Homo sapiens: one gene and its partner. The protein of the gene in region 1 interacts with the protein of each later gene in a pairwise test. Each region holds a gene or a part of one and is shown on either strand. Other genes may lie near its edges.

Region 1 (16,640 bases):
TCACAGAAATTCAGAGGATCATTATTGGCTACTATGAGCAACTATATGCCAATAAATTGGAAAATATAGAAGAAGTGAATCAATTTCAAGACACATACAACCTACCAAAATTTAACCATGAGGAAATCCAAAACCTAAACAGACGAATAACAAGTAAAGAGACCAAAGCAATAATAAAAAGCACCTCCCAGCAAAGAAAAGCCTGGACTCAATGGTTTCATTGCTTAATTCTACCAAACATTTTAAAAAAGAAATAATACCAATCCTACTCTAACTGTTTGGAATAATGGAAAAGGAAGGAATACTTCCAAACTTATTCCATGAGGCTAGTAGTACCCTGATACTAAAACCAAAGACCTGTCAAAAAATGAAAACTATATGCCAGTATCACTGATGAATATTGATGCAAAAACCTTCAATAAAATACGAGCAATCCAAATTCAACAACACATTGAAAAGGTCACCATCATGACCAAGTGGGATTTATCTTAGGGATGCAAGAATGGTTCAACATATGCAAATCAATTAATGTACTACATTGTATCAACCAAATTAAGTACGAAAATCACATGGACATTTCAATTGGTGCTGAAAAACCATTTGCTAAAATTCAACATCTTTTCATGATAAAAATCATAAAACTGGATATGGAAGAAACATACTTAAACACAATAAAATCCATCTATGACAAATCCATAGCTAGTATCATTGTAAATGATAGGCTTTCCTCTAAGATGTGGAACACAAGGATGCCCATTTTTCACCACTGTTATTCAACATAGCACTGGAACTCCTAGCTAGAGCAATCAGAGAAGAGGGAAAAAAGGACTTCGAAATTGAAAAGAAGCAAGTCAAATTATCCTTATTTACACATGATATGATCTTATATTTGGAAAAACCTAAAGACTCCACAAGAAAACGACTTGAATTGATAAATTTAGTAAAGTTGCAGGATACAAAATGAACATACACAAAAATCAGTAGCATTTCTCTATGCCAACAGCAAACAATCTGAAAAAGAAATCAAGAAATTAATCCCTCTTATAGTAGCTACAAATAAAATTAAATATCTAGGAATTAATGAAAAAATTGAAAGACCTCTACAATAAAAACTAAAAAACATTGATGAAGGAAATTGAAGACACACAAAAATGAAAAAATTGTCCATGTTTGTGAATTGAAAAAATTAATATTGTTAAAATGTTCATACTACCCAAAGCAATCTACAGACTCAATGCAATCCCTATCAAAATACCAATGACATTATTCAGTGAAATAGAAAAAAAAATTTAAAATTTATATGGAACCACAAAAGACCCAGAGTAGCCAAAGCTATCCTACGCAAAAAGAACAAAACTGGAGGAATCACACTACTTGACTTTAAATTATTCTACAGAGCTACAGCATCCAAAATGGCATGATACTGGCATAAAAACAGACACATAGATGAACGGAACAGAATAGACAACCCAGAGGTAAATTCATACATCTACAATGAACTCATTTTTGACAAGGATGCCAAGCACATACATTGGGAAAAGGACAGTGTCTTCAATAAATGGTGCTGGGAAAACTCGGTATCTATATGCAGAAGAAAGAAACTAGACCTCTATCTCTTGCCATATAGAAAAATTACATCCAAATGGATTAAAGACTTAACTACAAGACCTCAAAGTATGACACTACTAAAATAAAACATTGGGGAAACTCTCCAGGACATTGAACTGGGCAAAGATTTCTCAAGTAGTATCCCATGAGCACAGGCAACCAAAGCAGAAATGGACAGATGGGATCACATCAAGTTAAAGAGTTGCTGCATAGAAAAGAAACAATCAACAATGTGAAGACAACACACGAAATGGGTGAAAATATTTGCAAACTACCCGTCTGATAGGGATTCATTAATATCCAGAATTTTATAAAGAGCTCAGACAAGTTTACAGGAAAAACATCAATAATCTTATTTAAAAATGTGCAAAATATTTGAAAAGATATTTCTCAGAAGAAGACATACAAATGACAAACAGGCATATGAAAAGGTGCTCAACATCATTTATAATCAGGAAAATGCAAATCAATACTACAATGAGATATCTTCTCACCTCAGTTAAAATGGCTTATATCAAAAAGGCAATAACAAATGCTGGCAAGAATGTGCAGAAAAGGGAATTCTTGTACACTGTTAGTATGAATGAAAATGAATACAACCACTATGGAGAACAGCTTGTAGTTTCCTCAAAAAAATAAAGATTGAGCTATCATATAATCCAGCAATCCCACTGCTGAATTACATATACAAAAGAAAAGAAATAAGTGTATCAAAGAGATAACTTCACTCCTATGTTTGTGGCATCATTGTTCACGATAGCTAAGATTTGAAAGCAACCTAAGTGTCCATCAATAGATGAATGGATAAAGAAAATGTGGTACATAAATGCAATGGAGTACTACTCAGCCATAAAAAAGAATGAGATACTGTAATTTGCAACAACATAGATGGTATTGGAAATCATTATGTGAAGTGAAATAAGCCACACACAGAAAGACAAATTTTGCATGTTCTCATTTATTTATGGGAGCTAAAAATAAAAGCAGTTGAACTCAAGGAGATAGAGAATACAAGAGTGGCTACCAGAAGCTGGGAAGGGTAGCAGGTGGTGGGGTTGGGGATGGTTAAGGGGTACAAAAAATAGTTCAAAAGAACGAATAAGACCTAGTGTTTGTTAGCACAACAGGGTGACTACAGTCAAAAATAATTTAATTATACATTTGAAAATAACTAAAAGTTTCTAATTTGATTGTTTGCAACAAAACAGATAAATGCTTGATGGGATGGATACCCTATTTGCCCTGATGTGCTTATTACGCACTGTATGTCTCTATCAATATATCTCATGTGGCCCTTAAATATATATATATCTGCTATATACCCACACAAATTAAAATTGAAAAATTAAAAAAAAGAAAATAAAAATTGAGAAAAGAAAAAAAAACTCTCAAATAAGTAGAACTATTATTTTGTTTTCCCTCCCCCCAATTTTTTATGTTTGTTTATTATACGATTTAGAAACCTCTAATTAGAGAAACCTCTAATTTTTAAAACAAACAAACATAAAGTTGATTACATTAGATTCTAAATAACATTTTTAAAAATGTTATTTGTCCAAAACAATAATTAGTTATTAATTGAACTATAATTATCACACAATATCATTTTTAAGCTGGTTAATTAACTCTTAGGATGGGTGAAGAAAGAATTAAGAAGGAACGGAAGTGGCCTGAGTCATGAAGTTTAGATTATTCTGATTATTTTAATTCCTCAAAGAAACTTTTTCTGATTGAAATTTAGCCTTTAATAGATGGACTTTCTCATGCCAATCATGTATATCTCATCATAGGACAAATACTGCATTGCGGTTACCTGTTTACTCATGCATCTCTGGCCCCATGAGCTCTGTGGATTTCTTGGTACAATACGTATTTGTTGAATGGATAAATGGACTGATCAGTTCGTAAATTGAGCTAGACTGACAATTCAAAGAAGTCATATAAATTTGGAAAAGAAATTTTAGCCAGTTACAGAAATGTGACTCTTACCTCTATTTAATCTAGATTATTTAATCAACTTTATTTCATGTTTACCCACCAACAAAGGAAATCACAGGAAAAACTATGATCTTTGCATTTGCTGTTATACTTTATTGGACACAGAAATAGCAATATTGTTTATTCCTTTTTAAAATATACTCTGACAGTTAAAGATACTGAGAACACATACTTAAATTACTGTGACATTATATTATCATATTATAAATATATATTCATTATAATGTATTCTCAAGTCTTACTCATTTTTGAGGATTAATCTGAATATTACCTCAACATGTTCAGACTGATGATGGTGATTTATACATCATCCAACATACTAAAAACTTAGATATTCTAGTGAAAAAGAAAGAAAATTGTTTGATAAATAAGACTCTTACAAATTATGCTTGTTTAAATGCAGAAACACATTATTTAAAAGAAAATTAATCAAATAATTGTGTGCACTTGAATAGTTGTATGCATCTTAGGCAATGGTCAATTTATTTTTAAAATAATTTTATTTCAACACAAATTATTTAATCTTTATTAAAAATAAAGGAAAAAAACCTAAATATAAACTAACTAGTAATTCCACCTTCTTATGTTTAAAGCAATGATTAATTTGTCAACCAGATGCAACGCATTGAAACTCTATGCTTCCCCAAAACATGGAAATATATTAATAAGGACTAATATACAATGAAGAAATTATCAAAGTATAAATTAATTCAACTTCTAAATGTGATAATAATTGTTCCAAGTGCATTAGTTTGATTTCATGGGATACATTTTCTTTTATCATTTCTCTGTTGGAACCATAAAGGTAGAAGTGTCAAGGTCAATTTTTACGTTTTTCATTTTGAAAGCATCCTTTTAAATCTTTATAAAGAAATCAGTATAAAATAAATATAAATAGCAGATGCGTAAGTGTAGATTGGGATAAATAAATCGTATAAACCCCAAATAAAATAATGCAGAAAGAACATAAGTGGGTTTATTGAAGGAGTATTAGAATATAACTATTTGTATGCAGAAGTGGTCTGAGAAATCAGTTGAAAAGACAGAGGCATTAAAACTAGATTTAGGCAATTCAGTAGAATATCAAACTTAGTTGAAACAAAGTAGTTGAAGAAATAATATTTCATAAATGTGTTCTGACATTTTCTAATGAAGAAACGAGCAAGCATAAAAGAAAGAAACCTTACTATTAATCATGTATTTGAGTTGGCTTTTCTTTATAAATTATTAAATTTCCTTGAGTACTTCAAATGCTCTTTTTAAGGAATTATTATTTTTTGCATCATTTGTTTTATATTTTTCCATAATTTTTTAAATTAATATTTTGTTAGAATTGTTTTCAGTTTACAAAAAACATGGATCAGAAAGTACAGAGTTACTATATACTCCCCCTACACACACACAATTTTTCTTATTAACATCTTATATAGTATATTTGTTAACATGAATGAACCAATATTGATAAATGATTTTTAACTAAAGTCCATAGTTTACGTTAGTGTTGTGTAGTTCTATGATTTTTGCCAAATGGATAATGTCATGTATCCACCATTAGAGTATCATACAGAATATTTCTCTACTCTAAAGATTTCCTGTGCTTCACCTACTCATCTCTTCCTCTCCTCTACCCCTGTAACCACTGATCTTTTTATGGTTTGTATAGTTTTGCCTTTTCCAAAATGTCATATAGTTGAAATCACACAGGATGTAGCCTTATCAGACTGGCTTATTTCACTTAGTGATATACATTTAAAGTTCTTCCATGAATTTTCATGGCTCCTTTCTTTTCATTGCTGAATAATCTTCCATATTCTGGATATACCACAGTTTGTCTCTCCATTCACTTATGAAGGAATATCTTGGTTGGTTCAATTTTTGTGAATCACTTTTAAAATACGAGACTATACTTGCATAGCCAAATCATGTATTGCCCCAGGAATTACCACAGGATAGAACTCTTTGATAATCTGAAGTAATCTTTCTTTTGTTTTTATTCTACTTATCTCTTTTCTCTTGCATGAAATTCAAAGGTAAAAAAATTTCTGTTAAGTAGCATCTCACTTTAAGCAACCTTAAAATAGTGCTTCTTAAATGATGCTCCAAGTAGCATCTACATTAGAATCATCAGAGTTGCTTGTTAAAGTTCAGATTCCTGGGCTCTACTCTTGATGTACTGAATCAGAATTTCTGGGGATGGAGCCCAGGTTTCTATTTTTTTAAACAAAGCTCCTCATGTTGCCTACCCTCACTAAACTTTGAAAGCAGACTACTTTTGTAATCAAGTTGTGTTTTTGATAATGTATGATATAACATGCTTTCTCCACTTTTGGACGTCTCAGGACTGGGGAAAGTAGGATTCAACTTAGAGTATGTGGCCAACTCTTTATTAGAAAGAAGTACTTTTTACAGAAATGTACTGAGTATTAGGGAAAATATTTTTTGATTCTATGTTGTTTCTTTCCAACATTCTTTGGAAAAGGAATGCAAGGATATTATCCTGGACCATTTACATTTCCAGCATTTCTTCATCAGGCTGAAGGTACCCAGAAAAAATTACTCTAGTACCTCAAACCATTACCTAGATCCACATTCTTAAGAAGGGCTTAGAGATAAATATTGTTTCTTTCAAACCAGGAAACTGTTATAGTTCAATAGTGGTTAATATTTTGGGTAATATTTTGAGTAATTTTCTGCATTTCTTATATTGCTATCGTTTCATTTTATTTCCAGCAAAATGTATTGCATTAGAATGTGGGAGAATTCAACTGAGTTGCTGATTGGATTTTCAAACTCATCGCAGAAATCACACCTTTGAAAGCCAAAGCTTTCATTTGTAAAACCTAGGCTTTTTAAGAGAATAAAAGTATTCTTGAAAATCAAAAGGAAAAATTCTAAAAAGCAGTACATCAGACTTGTGTCCCAAGCAGGAAATTAGAAACACAGTGGAAGATGATGTAAGAGCTAATTTTTCCTCCATATGTGGAAAACATACATGTACACACACACACACGGATGGAAGATCCGAGATATTAGAAATAAGAAAAGAGATCAAGAAAAATATATTTAGTTGTCCTCTAGAAGGCTCCCATCTTTGTCCTTCTGGATTCAGAGTATAGAAACCATGATTATTTTAAGAAACTCTGAGAGGAGAAAGAGCTGGTGCATTATTTCCTAAAGTGTAGCCCTGGGAGATTGCAAGTCTTTTAAAGAAAGCTATCCAGTATGGTCTTCAAGATAAGGAAGAAGAGATTAAGCAGGAAGGTCCCTGGACAAAACAAAGACTTTCCAAACTGAGAAAATGGGGGTCACAGAAGTGCTTAGAGAAAGCTGGTGGAACTGAAGATGTCTGGTTTTCAAACAAGGAGAATGTAGAGTGTATGGACCAAGGTAACCAGATGCCACTGCAGTATAGCAAGTATCAACAGCTGTGGTAGGCATGTACTGATAAGAAGGGAAAAGGAGAATATGTCCAGATGAGGACAAAAAGTGTCTATGAAGCCAGACACCTGATGCGCCAACTATATCTCATCAGTCTGGAAGCCTTACCTCTGAAACTTCTATTACTTTTGCTGAGCAAAAATATATGGTGAGTCCTAACTTTGTCTAATCATTTATTCAAAAAGAGAGTTGTTTGAACATTTAACTATAGAAAATATGAAATCTGTATCTGTTAAGTTAAAGCTATATCCTCTGGATGTGAATCTGAAGATTAAAATTTATACTTTCTAGGTATAAGAAGATTATCTGAAATAAATATATAGTGAAAAATTTAATGTTTTCTTTCTGGGTTTCCCATTTATTCTCCATCATAGACTGGGTTCTTTATATCAGTAGAAATAGGCATACAATATGCATACAAAGAGAAATGTCCTAATAAAGTAAATGGAAGGTGCATGAAAGAGAAATTCTGGAAGACAAATCAATAATATCTAGCTTGGATATTAGAGTCACATGGTCAGAACTGATTCCAGACTTCCAACTTACTAGTAACTTTGTGTTTTCTCATCCATAATTTGTGAATAATATCTACCTAGCAGCACTGTATGTATGAGATTAAATAATGAGATATATGTAAAGCATGTAAACTAGGGTCTGACACATAGCAAATGCTCAATTTTCTTATTCTTAATCTTACTGTTCTTGTCATTTATTATTTTACGAATTGCTATTTGTAGAACTTAATGTTTTACATTCTGATCTATGATTCTTATGGTCGGAATAATCCACAATAGTATAAATCTTGGTCTATGTTGAGAATTTCTTCATACAAACATAATTATGTAGCTCTTATACAGGCCAAACCTGCATTCATTTCTATTAGTTATATGCTAGAGGTAATGAATTTTTATTATTTATTTATGTATGTAGACACATTCTATTACCACTCTTTACCAACTGCCATTATTTTGGCTTAGGAGAAAATGATCTTGAAAACAGGTCTATGTAGTTTTAACAGCTCTTTTGTGAACTTCGGATGTAACTGAATCATTTTCTAGATTTATCTGTTAAATAAATGGTCCATGAAAGTATGTATGGGTAGATAATTGATGGAAGCAAATAATCCTATTGAAACATTTGCTATTTATTTTTGATACAGTTCTTTTAAACAGACTGATTAGTTCCCTTTATGATTTCACCCTCGAAAGCACACACGATTTTGTTCTTTATCATTGTTGCATGACATTCCATTTGGCAGTTGGGCTTATTTTTAGCCAGACTATCAAAGTATTTTTCAACTGGACTGTCACTGCACTTGAACTTGGAATCTTATAACTTGAAGAACTGCCCTGGAGAAAGGAAGAAACTTATAATAAATGGGAAATTATAAATCTAGACCAACCCAAACTTGTACTGGTAATTATTCTAATTATTCTTATTTCCTTAAGTGTAATATGGTTCAATTATAGTTACTGATAACTAACAACTCATTGGAATATGTGTTAATTTGTATACGGAAGATAAGGCAGCATGTTTTGTGAAAGTCTTTGAAAAACTATCTGAACTCAAATTATTTTTTTCTGAAGATCTTTATAGGAAACAAGAAATTTCTTACAAAAATATTATTTTAGTTCCTTGGTATAATGTTACAGAAAAAAATTTGGAATATTGCTGAATGTAGGGATTTTAGAATTATATCTTAAGTATCTAGTATTTAAAAACTAAAAACCGTCTTGCAACTAGAGATTGCTATAATTAAAATGCAATAAAATCAAATGAAATAAGTCAAATATATTTTTCTATGTAAATATATTATCCAATATCGAATGGGTTCTTCATTACTACAATTCAATATGATTGCATTTTAAATATAAACATCTGCATTTTAAACACACAATCAGTAATTTAAATTAAGTATTGTAGAATCTAGAATAAAAAACAGTTTTGATTACTTGTATGTTATGATCTGTGTCTACATTTTGCAAAACACAACTATGAATCAATCTCATTTGTTCTTCTTTACTAGATGAATGGAAGAAAAAAGTCAGTGAATCATATGTTATCACAATAGAAAGATTAGAAGATGACCTGCAGATCAAGGAAAAAGAACTGACAGAACTAAGGAATATATTTGGGTAAAGTTGTAAGAGTCATTATTTCTTTGTATAAGTGTCTTCAGTATTCACCTTATTTTTTAAAGTATCTGTATATTTTTTAAACCCGTAGAACCTCAGACATAAGCAGTCATGTTCTAAGCCTTAGGATGTCAGATTATCTCTCTTTGACCACTCATATAGCTCTCAAAATGCAAACATAACATCTCACCTCCTTAAAATATAAATTGTAATCTGCCATCATTAAAGTTTAAAAATAAAAACCTAAAGGCTAGCCTTTGAATGCAAGCTATTGTTGATCTCAGTAATCTTCTCAGGAATTAGATCATTCTTGTAAACCATGCCGGCAATGAAAAGCAAGATTTTTCTTCCCACATAGTGGTCGCATATTGGCCACATTGTTCTCTTTGAACTATGACGGTAAGTCCAATTTTAACAAACCCTCTGGTCTCTTGACATTGAAAGGCTGTCCCTTAATGGAACTGAGTATCATTCTGCCCCTGAACAATCATATAACAACATATAATATTGCCTTCAGGATTTCAGTAGATTTTGTTCCATGATAACAAGAGAAAAATAATCTAAGTGTCACAACCTTGGAAGACACAAAATGTTCAGAAAAGAGGAGCAAGACCCTTATATACACAAAAAGCCTTCTGGTTAAATTGAATCTGACATTGAGAAACTAGATGCCCATTAGAGGGTCAAGAAAGTTACCTGCCTGACTAAGGAAAAGTTCCATATAGGCCAATTAGCCATGTTCATTTATAGCTGTGTTATGTAATGCACTCATGGCAAAGAACTCCCTCTATTTTACTTAGAAAACAAGTGTAAAGCAATGACCAAATGACACATCTTTAAAATAAAATTTTAGATATAGTAAACATATAAATATCACATAATTGGCAAATAAAATCACCCATGTATAATATAGTTTATATGAAATTCGTCAATGGATGTAACAAGGCTTTCACAAGTGTTCAACTTATGGTTCAAAAAGTAGTTGGTTCTCTTTATAGTTTGGCCCAGGATGATGAACTCAACACTGACACTTGTGATGAGATACCACTGATCTGACTTTTGCAAGTAGTATCACATGTTGAGATATGGAACTACATTTGAAATTCCTGTAGAAATATGACTGGCATGTTAGTACAGTAGAATTATAAATATGTATTTGTTTTGTTGGAAAAGTATGAATATAGAAATTAATCATAAACATCTAGCTCTTATTGACTTAAATAAATATGCTAAATGAAATATGATTACATTGAAGAGATTTTCCTCAACTTTTAAAGGTCAAAGCCTCAGTTATTTAGTATTATTTTTTAATTTAGAAAGTATTGAGCACATAGGTGAAGGCTAGCTTAAACTAGATGTATCCAAACCTGAATATTAGGATTAACAATGGATTTAAAATGTAGGTTCTTTCTGATACCACATCGACAACTACAAGCTGTTTTGACAACTGCTATAATGGACTTTTCCTGTGTTTCTACTAAATGCAACAAATGTGACCTTCTTTTTTCTGATTAGCATTGGGGGTGAGATGCAGGAATCTGTGTCAGGGAGCTTACAGTCCAGAATTTGTTGAGTGCCAGCTCGTATTCAAGTGTTGTTCTGGATACATCAAATACAAGACATTATTTAATCTATAGTCATATGTAGATTGTTGTCATTTCATGTGTGCCGAATAATATTAACTCCGGTGGATGATAAACTAAGGATTAGAGACAAGGCAGTGGGAGTTGTCAAGTCACATGGTCAGTAAATTCTGGAATGTGATTTGTGTCAAGGTCTGCCTGACTCCATAGATAGCGCTCTTCCTACCATACCCTGCTTACAAAAACAAGATTTAGGTCCTGATTTATTCATTGATTTTTGGAATCATTGTAGATAAAAAGCATAGTTAAGTAAAGGTGTGTAGGCAAGAATGAATGAGTACCATAGAAAGTTTAGGAAAAGTGAGAAAAAATAATGTCTTCACCATATTATCTGACTTGAGTAAGAAAGCTATGTGAATCAATGTAAGAATTTTGGAGTCATACAAACATGGTTTTAAATACAGCTTCTTCTATTTATAAGCTGTATATCCATGGATATGTTTTTTAATCTCCTTAATCCTCATTTTCATCTATAAAATGAGGTGAATAATAATCACCTCACAGGATATTTTCAAAATGAGGTAAATTAAATACTAAGTACAGGGCCCAACCCATAGTAAGCATTGAGTAGTTGGAAATTTCTATTATCATGATTGATTGGATAAATAAGGACAGTTTGAAGGATAGAAGACTTATCATAAAGTGAGAGTAACAAATAGCTTATTAAAAGTTAGAAAGAGTGAAAGTTTTTATGAAGAGGATGATTTCAAAATTAAAAATGTAAAGTATTAGCACAATTTAGGAAGATGCCGAAATCTGAAATATAGCTTTTAATGATTTTGATTGAAAGGGATTTGAAGAATTTTGAGACTAGAGTATTAGAAGGCTAATCAAAATGGCTATCAAATTTACTGAGGATAATGGTGAGACATTTTTGGAGAGAAAGACCAATAGCCTGATGCTGATGACATTAAAGAAGCTACAGAATGTGATGATAAGGAAGCTGAGGAGAGGATTATCCAGTCTAGAATGATGTTTCTGCAAGAACTAGGGGCCTCTTATGTTAATGGAGATGGAGACTGTAGTACTTGCTAAAATTTTCGATTCCATGACTCCACCCTTTATCATGTGAATCAGAATCTCTGGAGATGTCTTCCAATAACCTGAATGTTTAACAAGCTCCCCAGATAAAACTATGCATAATAAAAATGATACTTCTAAAGTTTGAAAACTATACTTCTAGAAAGATATCCAAATTGCACTGAGAACTCTTTGCCTGAGGTGATATTAGTGAAGGGATGAGGAATATGGGAACAGAAAGTAAGCAACTGGTGTGGTCTAAAGAGAGTCAAGAGAATCAAAAACAAGCAAGCAAAAACAGAATAATCTGCTTTTGTCTGATTTCGTCAAGGTAGAGAGCATAATCTGGGAGAAAAAAGTGAATTGCTTCCAGGGCAGAGTTCTAAGGATTTTCTTTTCTTTGGAATAAAATGATGGATGAAAGAAAGAAAAGAATAGTGTGCTGAGAATGTAAATTGTCTTACTCACTCATTCACAAAATTTTAAAGGTAGTTGGGAAGATCAAACCTAACACTGTATGAAATGACATTTAAATGAGTATCTAGAGCATTATAGGTGCTAAATAAATGTTAGAATCTCATTACTCACCCTTATTCATTTGTCTTATAAAGAGCATTCCTGTGATAAACAATTATGTTATGTTGCCTGACATCAGCCTTTCTCTAAACATTTAGATAGCAAGGAGACTGTATACAATGCCCAAAAAGGAACATTTAAACTAGCATGAAACGTAAAGGATCACTGATGTAAACAGTTTTTCATTTGCTAACCAATTTCTTTATGGCATTCCCGGTAGATGCTAATTTCATTCATTATAAGAGATTTTTCACCACATAATACACCATTGCTCTATCAGCTCGAATACACAATCTTCCTGGCATAGCTTTTACCCACAACATAATAAACAGCAATATAGTGCTAAATGTAAGACAGAAAGAGCTAAATAGTTATCCTGCTTATGCCAATTTATAGCAGCTTTGGAATGGGAGCTTGATGTGGGAGAGAGGGGAAATGGAAATGGAATGTTCTTTCATCTTCTGCTATAAAGTTGCATTCACTCATAACTTTGGACATTTGTTTAGGTAATGGATTGGTGACAGGAAGAAATGAAGAAAAAGAGAAGGCAGGAGGAGAAAGAAAGACAGAAAGGGCACCTTAGAGTACCATTGTCTGATTATATCCTCCTCTGTGCTGCCTCTAATCTTTATCAACATAACAGCACTTACTACATGGTGTTGTTTTTATCCATTTATAGGTCTATCTCCCCACTAGTATATGTGTTCATTAAAGGCAGCTTTTTTTCTTATTTAGCCTTATTTATATTTGTACTTATTTGTAAAACAAACTAATAACTTAGGGCTTACCATATGCCAGAAATGCTTCTACGTATCTTTTTGTGCATCAGCTTATATAATCCTAATGGTGTATATGTAAAGTGCTTTAGCACAGTGTCTGGCACATGGCAAACCCTCAAAAATGTTAGTTAACACTTAATCATTATTGTTTATGTTAACAACCCTCTGAAGTAAGTGTTGCAATTGCCATGTTATACCTGGAGAAAATGAGGCTAATCAAATTAAACTGGCTTGAACTAGATTAAACAATTTGTATGATTTACCTAGGATTGCATCCATCTTTATTTGATTTCAAAATGTATCATATTCATAATCTTGGTTATGAATATTATACAACCTTTTTGAAAAAACTATGGAAGTGATGGCTCTCCACATGTGACTTCAAATGTTTTCAATTAAATTATTTTGTTTCAATAGTTTTTATCATAATAAATTTTAAGACTATGTTTTGCTAATTTCATTGTCAAGCCAAATTTGTATCTGCTTAATCTATAATATGAAATTTAAAACCATGAGAATACTCCAGAAAAGTTATAATTTTTCTTTTTCTTTTTCTTTTTTTTTTTATTATACTTTAAGTTTTAGGGTACATGTGCACAACATGCAGGTTAGTTACATATGTATACATGTGCCATGTTGGTGTGCTGCACCCATTAACTCGTCATTTAACATTAGGTATATCTCCTAATGCTATCCCTCCCCCTCCCCACACCCCACAACAGGCCCCCGTGTGTGATGTTCCCCTTCCTGTGTCCATGTACTCAATTCCCACCTGTGAGTGAGGACATGCGGTGTTTGGTTTTTTGTCCTTGCAATAGTTTGCTGAGAATGATGGTTTCCAGCTTCAACCATGTCCCTACAAAGGACATGAAGTCATCATTTTTTATGGCTGCATAGTATTCCATGGTGTATATGTGCCACATTTTCTTAATCCAGTCTATCATTGTTGGACATTTGGGTTGGTGCTTAGTTCCAAGTCTTTGCTATTGTGAATAGTGCTGCAATAAACATACATGTGCATGTGACTTTATAGCAGCATGTTTTATAATCCTTTGGGTATATACCCAGTAATGGGATGGCTGAGTCAAATGGTATTTCTAGTTCTAGATCCCTGAGGAATCATCACACTGACTTCCACAATGGTTGAACTAGTTTACAGTCCCACCAATGGTGTAAAAGTGTTCCTATTTCTTCACATCCTCTCCAGCACCTGTTGTTTCCTGACTTTTTAATGACTGCCATTCTAACTGGTGTGAGATGGTATCTCATTGTGGTTTTGATTTGCATTTCTCTGATGGCCAGTGATGATGAGCATTTTTTCATGTGTCTTTTGGCTGCATAAATGTCTTCTTTTGAGAAGTATCTGTTCATATCCTTTGCCCACTTGTTGATGGGGTTGTTTTTTTCTTGTAAATTTGTTTGAGTTCATTGTAGATTCTAGATATTAGCCCTTTGTCAGATGAGTAGATTGCAAAAATTTTCTCCCATTCTGTAGGTTGCCTGTTCACTCTGATGGTAGTTTGTTTTGCTGTGCAGAAGCTCTTTAGTTTAATTAGATCCCATTTGTCAATTTTGGCTTTTGTTGCCATTGCTTTTGGTGTTTTAGACATGAAGTTCTTTTCCTTTTTTTTTTTTTTTTCAGACGGAGTCTCGCTCTGTCGCCCAGGCTGGAGTGCAGTGGCGCGATCTAGGCTCACTGCAAGCTCCGCCTCCTGGATTCACGCCATTCTCCTGCCTCAGCCTCCCAAGTAGCTGGGACTACAGGCACCCACCACCACACCTGGCTAATTTTTTGTATTTTTAGTAGAGACGGGGTTTCACTGTGTTAGCCAGGATGGTCTCGATCTCCTGACCTCGTGATCTGCCCACCTTGGCCTCCCAAAGTGCTGGGATTACAAGCATGAGCCACCGCGCCTGACCCAGAAAAGTTGTAATTTTTAAACACTATGACATCAACATAATCCAAAACAACTTTTTTGGCATTGAGTAGATACATCTTGGTCAGTAATTACAGTGCCTCACTTTAAAATTGACTAGGTTTAATTATGTACAAAAAAGTGGTCAAAAGAATGCTCTGTTCCATTAAATAGTCACAATGTATAGAGGAAATAAAAAAATGTTTTCTGAGATACACCTTTTTGTACCTTTTCTCTCTGAAAAGTTCATCTGAGGCCTGTTGCATTCCACTATACTCATCCTTAAAACAAAATATCTTCTAAAATTATTGCACTATAGCCAACTATGAAATTTGGCTATTATAAGATGAATAGCACTGGAAACTTTTCAAGCTGATCTTATTTAAGAGGAGTAGACCCTTTCTGTCAAACTACTAAGTAGGATATTGAAGGGGAAATGTCATCTTATAATTAACATAGAATGAAAATATTATTTGGCATGTTTGGTAGTGTGTTTTGCCAATTAGCCACAAAACAAAAAATAAGAATCGTCAACAACAAAAAAAACCCTCAAATCCAAAAGGAAACAAAGAATTCATAATGCCCTAAGTCAGTCTATTTCTCTAATTCTTTTCTTGTTTGTCCAGGTAAAACTAGTTAAGAACCATAATTTTACAGGAATATCTTGTGAAATCATTGAGAAGCAACTTGACCTCAATCTCTCTCTGCCTCTCTCTCTCTATCTCTCCCTATTGTTCTCCCTCTCCTTCTCCATCTGTAGCTCGCTATCTTTCTATCATTTTCTCTCCCCCTTACCCTTCATCTCTTCTTCTTTTCCATCCTGTACCTCCATGATTCCTTCTTTCCTATCCCTGTTTTGAAGAGCAAAACAATACAAAAACAGTAAAAATAATATCAATGCCTTAATAGAAATAACTATTATAGCAGCTAATATTTATAAAAGCTTTACAAGCTCTAACTTATTTACACTTCACAACAATCTTATAAGATAACAATAATTATGCCAATTTTATCATATCTGTCACTCTAACTATAATTGTTTATTGTATGAATGGCTGAATAAATGAATATACTTCACAGTATTAGTTTGCAGATTTTATTTGCAAGATATCAAACAAATATATTTCTGGATATTTCTTGGAGATATATATTAGAAACAGATCTTATTGATATAGTCTGCTTCTATTGTTTGGAGGGCATGGGGCAGGGAAGAATCTGCAATGAATAGGCAAGAAGTTGCAACTAGCCATTTGAAACTTAAATGATCAATTTGGGAAACTAGACAACCCATAAAAAATCCTTACCTTCTTTCTACATTCTTGGCTTTTCCCTAAGTTTTAACCAATGAATTAGCTTTAAAATATATCTACCTGTCTGAATACCTTGGAGAGCAGTGTGTTACTTTTTGGCCAACTGTTCAAATGTTACATTTTAATAAGTTCCCACTTGTGGTCATGTTAGATATCTTCTTGAAAGGATGAGGTCATGAAAAAGAAGTTTAATTGGATCACAAAACTGCACACTTTT
Region 2 (7,000 bases), on another chromosome or scaffold:
TTGAAGGTCTCCTCCCGGGTCAGCTCCACCCCGTCCTTCAGCCTAGCCGGGTGGGTGGGTGGCAAGTGCTGTGGCCTCTTCTGGGCAGATGCCCCCAACACCCATGCCCCGTGCTTCTGGAACTCACCATTTGACTTGCGCCCCCTCCTCCGATACTTCACACTCAAACTCCACCCGCTGCCCCACCATCACCAGCTGGTCCTCCAAGGGGCGCGTGATGAGCACAGGGGGCTCTGTCCAGGCAGGGTGAGCATGAGGGTTGGCTCCCCTGAGGCCATCTCCTCCCCAGGTTCCCACATCCTCAGGTCCCAGGCCCACCTTTCACAAAGAGCTCCGTGCTACACTTCTCGCCACCCACCACGCACTGGTAGGCTGCGTCGTCCGCCAATGAGCACTGGCTGATGGTCAGGGTACGCTTGGCACCGATGGACTCAAAGATGTACCTGGGTGGGGGCCGCAGGGAAGTGGCAGGAAAGCTGCGGACACCCCTCCGGGCCCAGTGCGCCCCATGATAATCCCTGTGCCCCCCACCCCAAGCCATCCAGAGGGGAACTTACTTGCTGTAGAACAGAAGGGGCCGTTGAAGTGTTCCCGACGGGAGGAAGTGAGCCCGAGACAAAAGGAGAGAGAGAGAGGGACCGGCAGGAGCAAAAGGATGGGAAATTAGGCCCAGAGAGATGGGGCTGAGAGCCACACCGAGTCAGAGATACGCATGTGGAGAGGGGCAGGAGGCAAGGCTATGGGGGTCCCCACCTCCACCCGAGCCCCCCTCCCCACCCCAGGCTGCACCTGCCGCTCATCTGGATCTCCTGGCCATTCTTGAGCCATTTGACCTCAGCGTCATGGTCAGCCAGTTCCACGGTCAGCCGGATCTTGTGGCCTTTGCTCACCTGGTAGGCCGGCTCCAGCTTCTTCTGAAAGGCTGAGCACCACCCCTCAGCCCCGGCCACCCCACCGCCCGCACCCTGCTCCCCCAGGCCAAGCTACTGTGGCTGTGGCTGGGGCCCAGGTCCCCCCCTCCAATCCCCTCTGTGCCGCCCCGCTTCCACTTCTCTGTGTCTCTATTTCTTTTTGTTTTGTTTGTTTGTCTGTTTGTTTGTTTTTTGGACAGAGTCTTGCTCTGTTGGCCAGGCTGGAGTGCAATGGCGCCATCTTGGCTCACTGCAACCTCTGCCTCCCAGGTTCAAGTGATTCTCCTGCCTCGGCCTCCCGAGTAGCTGGGATTACAGGCATGTGCCACCACGCCCAGCTAATTTTTGTATTTTTAGTAGAGACGGGGTTTTACCATGTTGGCCGGGCTGGTCTTGAAATCCTGACCTCAGGTGATGCGCCCGCCTCAGCCTCCCAAAGTGCTGGGATTACAGGCATGGTGTCTTCATTTCTTTATCTGTGTCTATGTGTCAACCCACCTCCTTGTCTCTGTCTGTCTGACCTTGTCCTTCTGTCTTCCTTGGGGTCCTCTCCACCTGCTCAGCTCAGGGATTGGGTTAGGGGCTTCCAGAAAGACAGAAGCTTGTCAGGAGAACTGGGGCTGGGACAGCTGTGCCTTCTCTTCTCTCAGCAACCCCTGAGTTGTGTACTCTTCCCAGGCGCTCCCACCTAGCAGCCCTCTGTGCCCAGCACTCTCACTCCCATCTCAGCCCCCAGGGCCAGTGCGGTGGTCCCCATGCTGCTGCAGTGGGGGAAATAGGGCTCAGAGAGGCGACTGGCCCAATGCCACCAGCCCAGCAGGTGTGTGGCAGAGCTGGGTCTTGAGCCCAGCCCTGCTCCACAACAATGCCTCCTCTTGCGGCCGTGTTTGTAAAAGCCCATGTTGCTGCTGCTGAGCCCAGGGAGGAAGTGGGGGCTCCATCCACCGAGCAGAGAAGGACCCCTGAGTCCTCAAATACTCTGGCTGGGCCTGGAGTCAGCTGCGGAGGGGCAGAGATCTACTGCTGGGTGCTCTGTGACCTTGCGCTAGTTCCTTAAACCCTCTGTGCCTCGGTTTCCTCAGTAACATGGAAATGGTAATAGTCCTTCCATCATAGTGTTGTTTCGAGAATTAAATGAGATAATTACATAAAGCACCTAGTGGCTGGCTTAGGAAGGAACTCACTCACTTTTTTTGAGATGGAGTCTCATTCTGTCACCCAGGTTGGAGTGCAATGGCACAATCCTGACTCACTGCAACCTCTGCCTCCCGGGTTCAAGTGATTCTCCTGCCTCAGCCTCCGGAGTAGCTGGGATTACAGGCGCCTGCCACCATGCCCAGGTAATTTTGTATTTTTAGTAGAGACGGGGTTTCACCATGTTGGTCAGGCTGGTCTTGAACGCCTAACCTCAGGTGATCCACCTGCCTCGGCCTCCCAAAGTGCTGGGATTACAGGCGTGAGCCACTGCACCTGGCCAGCAATTTGCTCTTTTTACTGTTGTTGCTATTCCTGGAAGACACCCCTACCCTCGGAGGTCCCCATCTGCCTTGCCAGCCTCCATCTTTTCCTCCTTGGGCACCTACAGTCCTTTGCTTGGTGCCCTCTGGGCTCAGCAGTTCAGGAGTTAACCCAGAGGAACATTGGTGGCATTCAGGGGATCCCTGGCTTAAATGGGGCCACGGTGCCGGTAAGGGCCAGGCCACCTAGCGATGGGGTGATGGGAAACCCAGTGAGGCTGAGACAACAGGGAGGCAGGGCAGAGGGATAAGGGGCCTGGGGGAGGTCAGCAGGGAGGGACTAACCAGCTCCTCTCCCCGTCCCCATGATCGTGTGTGTTTTGTGTGTGTGCTTTGGGAGGGGCTTGTCTCCCATATCCTGCATGGAAGCTGACCCCTCCATTCAGTCGGTGTTTATAGAGCGCTCGAGGTGTGTGCCAGGCCCTGTGCTAGACCCAGACATGGTGGGGAGAAGGCATGTGAGACCCCTGCTTTCCCGGCTCACACCCGCCCTTGTCAACCCCTCAGTGGAGAAGGGCTATTCCTGGGCTCTCCTCTTTCCATCTGCCTGGGGGTGAGGGTAGTTAACCCAAGCCCTCCTGCTTTGTTTGCCTGAGAGAAAGATTAGCCAGGCTCTTTTCTTTGCCTGTGTGTGGCTCTCCAGGCTTAGCGGGCCTCTTCCCTTTTCTTTTGGGTGTGGAGAGGGTTAACCGGGCTTCATTTCTTTTCAGAAGAGGGTAGAGAAAGAAAGTGTAGCCTGATTTTTCCTTGGTGAGGAGGGTTAACCTGAGCTCTGTCCTTTTCCTTGTGGCTGTCCTGGCCTAACTTTTGCTCTTCTCTTCTATCTCTGTGGTAAGGGGCTAACCTGGGCATTCTTGGCTTTTTCTACACAAGGAGGGGTTAACCTGGGCTCTTCTTTCCTGTGAGTCTCTGTGCTAAGCCGGACTCCGCTCTTTCCATGTATGTGGACGAGGTGGGGGGCTAACCTGTGCCCTCTCCTCTCCCCTGTGGGGAAGGGCTAACCTATGCCCTCTCCTCTCCTGTGTAGGGAAGGGCTAGCCTGTGCCCTCTCCTCTCCCCTCTGAGGAAGGGCTAACCTGTGCTCTTCTTCTCATCGCGCCTCATGCCCTTGAGCCTCTTTAGCATGCCGCGCAGGTCAGTGACGCCGTACTGGAAGGCGATGCGCTCGTACTCAGATGGGGGTGCCTGCCGTAGGATCTCCCACACGTCCTCCTCTGCTGGTGCCTCCAGCTTCGAGTCCCTGTGTCCCGCAGTCTAGGCTGTGGCCGGGGGCAAGACTGCAGCCCCCTGGGCGGGGCTTCCTGGGCCCAGGACCAAGGAGCTGTAGCCACCCCTGTCCCTCTGCCCCTTCCCTTCTGGTGGGGCAGCTGGAGCTGCTCTGGGTCCCAGGCCAGGCAGGACTGGGGGCCAAGGGAGCTGAAGAGGGGCTGGGGATCTGGAGGGGCTCCTGGCAGAATTAGGGGTGATGAGGGTGCTGTGCTATGTTGGGCACTCACCTCGGGGTCCGGAAACTGCTGCTCCAGGGGTGGGGGTGGGAGAAAGGGTAGGTGGCACATGAGAGGTATGGCCACCTTCCCTCAAAGACCTGGACCCCACCCATGGGCCTTTACTTCCTCCCTATTTTCCGCACTTGCACTCCCTGTGTTGTGGGGCACCCATGCTGCTCCGGAGGCTCTGGCAGGACCTCCTGTGTGCATTACTTTTTCTTATCCCTCCTAAGCTCTGACAGATAGGTGGGTGGCAGGAGAAGCCCAAGGCACAGAGACTCACCCCTGTCCGTGGGGAGCCGCACCCTGCTCTGAGTCTCTCACCACAGCCTCTCAGAGAGGGGACGGGAATCCCCTCTGCACCCACCAGCGCCCTGCCGCCCCCAAACACCCAGACCCCGATTCTTACTCTCTGGGCCACAGCAGCAGCAGCCATAATGGAGGGGCCGGGGGAGAGGGAGAGAGAGGGCAGAGAGAACATAAGTCAGTTGGGCCGACCTGGTAGACCCTGCAGCTCTGGGGACCCTCTCTCTGTTCCTTCTGGGTCCCCGGAGTTTACGGAGGGAGCTTTTGCAGCCTCAAGTGTGGAGTGGCCGTGGGGGACACTGTGAGGATGACTGTTGACGGGACATAATGTCTGCAGAGCCCTTTAACTCCTTCCACACTGGGATCATCCCCTCGACAGACAAGGAAACCAACTCAGAGAGGTGCAGTGTTGTGCTCAGGGTCACACAGCTGGCAAACCACAGTGCTGGGATTTGGAGCCAGGCCTCACCAGCTGCCCCAGGAACTGCCACCCAGGACTCACCTCTTTTTCAGCAGTGAGCTGAAGTCCAGAATCCCAGTGTCCTCATGGCTATCACTATGGAGAGGGACCCCCAGTGAGGCTGCAGTGAGGGACTGGAAAGGGATTAGGAGCAGGATGGGAGTGGAGTGGGGAGGGAGAAAGGGACACTAGCCAGATTGGGCTCCCACCCGTCTCAGACCCCTGGGGGTCTGCGGATGGTGCAGGTAGGGCCTGGGGCAGGGGTACCTGATCCGCCGACCACCTCCAGCCAGGCTCCTGTGGGGGTTAGACTCAGTATCCTCACCTGCCTGGGAAGCTTGCTCTCCCCTGCAGCCCCCACTGACTTCAGCTCCGCCCCGCAAATCATCCCCAGCCCTGACCCCCAGTCGAGACCCTGAAGGGCCTCAGACTCCAGCACTGGCCTCCCCCAGGCCCTGAGGATGGCCACTCACGTGCGGCGGAAGGCTGATAGGAGGTCCAGGTCTCCGGTGCCCATGGCCTCTGGGTTCAAAGGGTGGAGAGATGGGGGAAGGGGCTTCAGAGGGGGCCGTTTGAGAAGCCCTGCCCTGGGGGCGGCCTCTGAGTATTCACAGACTTGCCCATTCATGACCCCATGAGGCTGGGCATCTGCCCCAGGATCTCACCTTCCCAGCCTTTCCCAGGGTCAAGGTACCAGGCAGGTGGGACGGTTTATTGTCCCCAATTCCCACCCATCTCTCAACTCACCTTCACCCATCGCCCAAACATTCAGACAGTGCCAGGCCATGGGCCAGGAGCCGTGACACCAAGATGATAAAACAGAGTCCCACCCAGATGAGACCCGGACTCAGCCCTAAGCCCCCACGCCTACCCTGCAAGCCTTGGGGTTTCTCTCACACCCTGTGTGTGCAGCACTGGGCACGTGGCCAGCACTCATGTCTGGATGGGACGAGGCATCCTCCTTAGTGTTGGGAAAAGGAGGTAGGAGACCAGGACCCATGGGGAGCCCGAGCCCAGGACAGACACCAGGGCCCCCTCACCGTGGACAGTGAGATTGAAGTTGGAGCAGTCAAATTTGTCCTTGGTGGACACCTCACAGCGGTAGCTGCCAGTGAAGGCAGGCTGGGCATCGGTGATGTGCAGCTCGAACAGATAGACCTGTGTGCATGGAGGGACGGGGCGTCAGGGGACACCAGGGGCCGGGAGACAAGGCTCCGCACCCTTAAAGGAGACTGGGAGTGGCCGGGCGCGGTGGCTCAGGCCTGTAATCCCCACTTTGGGAGGCTGAGGCGGGCGGATCACATAAGACCAGGAGCTCCAGACCAGCCTGGCCAACGTGGTGAAATTCCGTCTCTACTAAAAATAACGAAAATTAGCCAAGTATGGTGGTGCACACCTCTAGTTTCAGCTACTCGGGAGGCTGAGGTGGGAGAATCGCTTGAACCCAGGAGGTGGAGGTTGCAGTGAGCCGAGATTGAGCCACTGCACTCCAGCCTGAGCGACAGAGCGAGACCCTGTCTCAAATTATATATATATATATATATTTAAAGGAGGCTGGGAGTGACAAATGCTCATCGATCTTCGCACCCTCAGGCTTTAGTTAACCCATACAGAGTTTTTGTACAGAGAAAGGGGACTATCTCGAAACCCATGATTGCCATCTGCTGGCACATGGTTGTGGTGAAATACAGGCTTTTGTGCAATGCACAGCCCCGCACAGCAGAACATGTTGGCCTCTCTTGCTAGAGGCCCCCTTGCCTAGCCCAGGACTGGGGAAGGTTGGGAAAAGCAGAGGCTTGGAGTGAACAAACAAGGGGACTTAAGCCTTAAGGTTCTGGTGGGCAGGGCGGAAAAAAACAAAACACAAAAAACGAAGGCTTAAGGTTCTAGGCCTATGTCTAAGTGACCTTGGAGCAGCCACTTAACCTCTCAAGCTTTGGTTTCCGTGTCTGTATAATGAGGAATTGTTCTGGTTAATCCCTGAGAGTCCCTTGAGCCCTTAGCCCTGATACTCACCCATCCAGGGGCTTTACAACCCCACTAGCTGGTGCCCCCATGCTTCACAGTGTCCTCCAGGCTTCCTGACCACCCTGGGCGACCCCCCACCCCCGGCCAAACCTTATTAGGTGCCCCCTTGAGGTGATCATGTCCACCAAGTCTCCCAGGTCCCCGACAGTGCTCCCATGAGCCTCATCGCACTCCCTGGCCCCCAGGCCTCCGGGATCTCCCTGTGGGCCCCTGGCCCCTCCACCTGCCTCCCAGATTCCCCACACCCCTTGCTTGCAGCTCGTGTGTGCCTCTGGGTCTCATGGTGCCCTC

The links.
Region 2: the proteins of TNNI3K (region 1) and MYBPC3 interact in a two-hybrid assay, tested with the Homo sapiens proteins (one study listed by BioGRID).

Annotation. Positions count from the first base shown.
Region 1 is NC_000001.11:74,227,032-74,243,671, forward strand, and holds the start of TNNI3K (serine/threonine-protein kinase TNNI3K), read left to right. Parts: upstream 1-8,355; 5' UTR 8,356-8,420; coding exon 8,421-8,460; intron 8,461-9,070; coding exon 9,071-9,179; intron 9,180-16,640. Other genes in the region: FPGT-TNNI3K fusion protein, read left to right, coding at 9,071-9,179. UniProt on the Homo sapiens protein: May play a role in cardiac physiology.
Region 2 is NC_000011.10:47,342,703-47,349,702, forward strand, and holds part of MYBPC3 (myosin-binding protein C, cardiac-type), read right to left. Parts: intron 5,840-7,000; coding exon 5,722-5,839; intron 5,204-5,721; coding exon 5,155-5,203; intron 4,979-5,154; coding exon 4,949-4,978; intron 4,778-4,948; coding exon 4,724-4,777; intron 4,328-4,723; coding exon 4,325-4,327; intron 3,943-4,324; coding exon 3,925-3,942; intron 3,669-3,924; coding exon 3,505-3,668; intron 923-3,504; coding exon 790-922; intron 561-789; coding exon 558-560; intron 444-557; coding exon 319-443; intron 234-318; coding exon 128-233; intron 43-127; coding exon 1-42. UniProt on the Homo sapiens protein: Thick filament-associated protein located in the crossbridge region of vertebrate striated muscle a bands. In vitro it binds MHC, F-actin and native thin filaments, and modifies the activity of actin-activated myosin ATPase.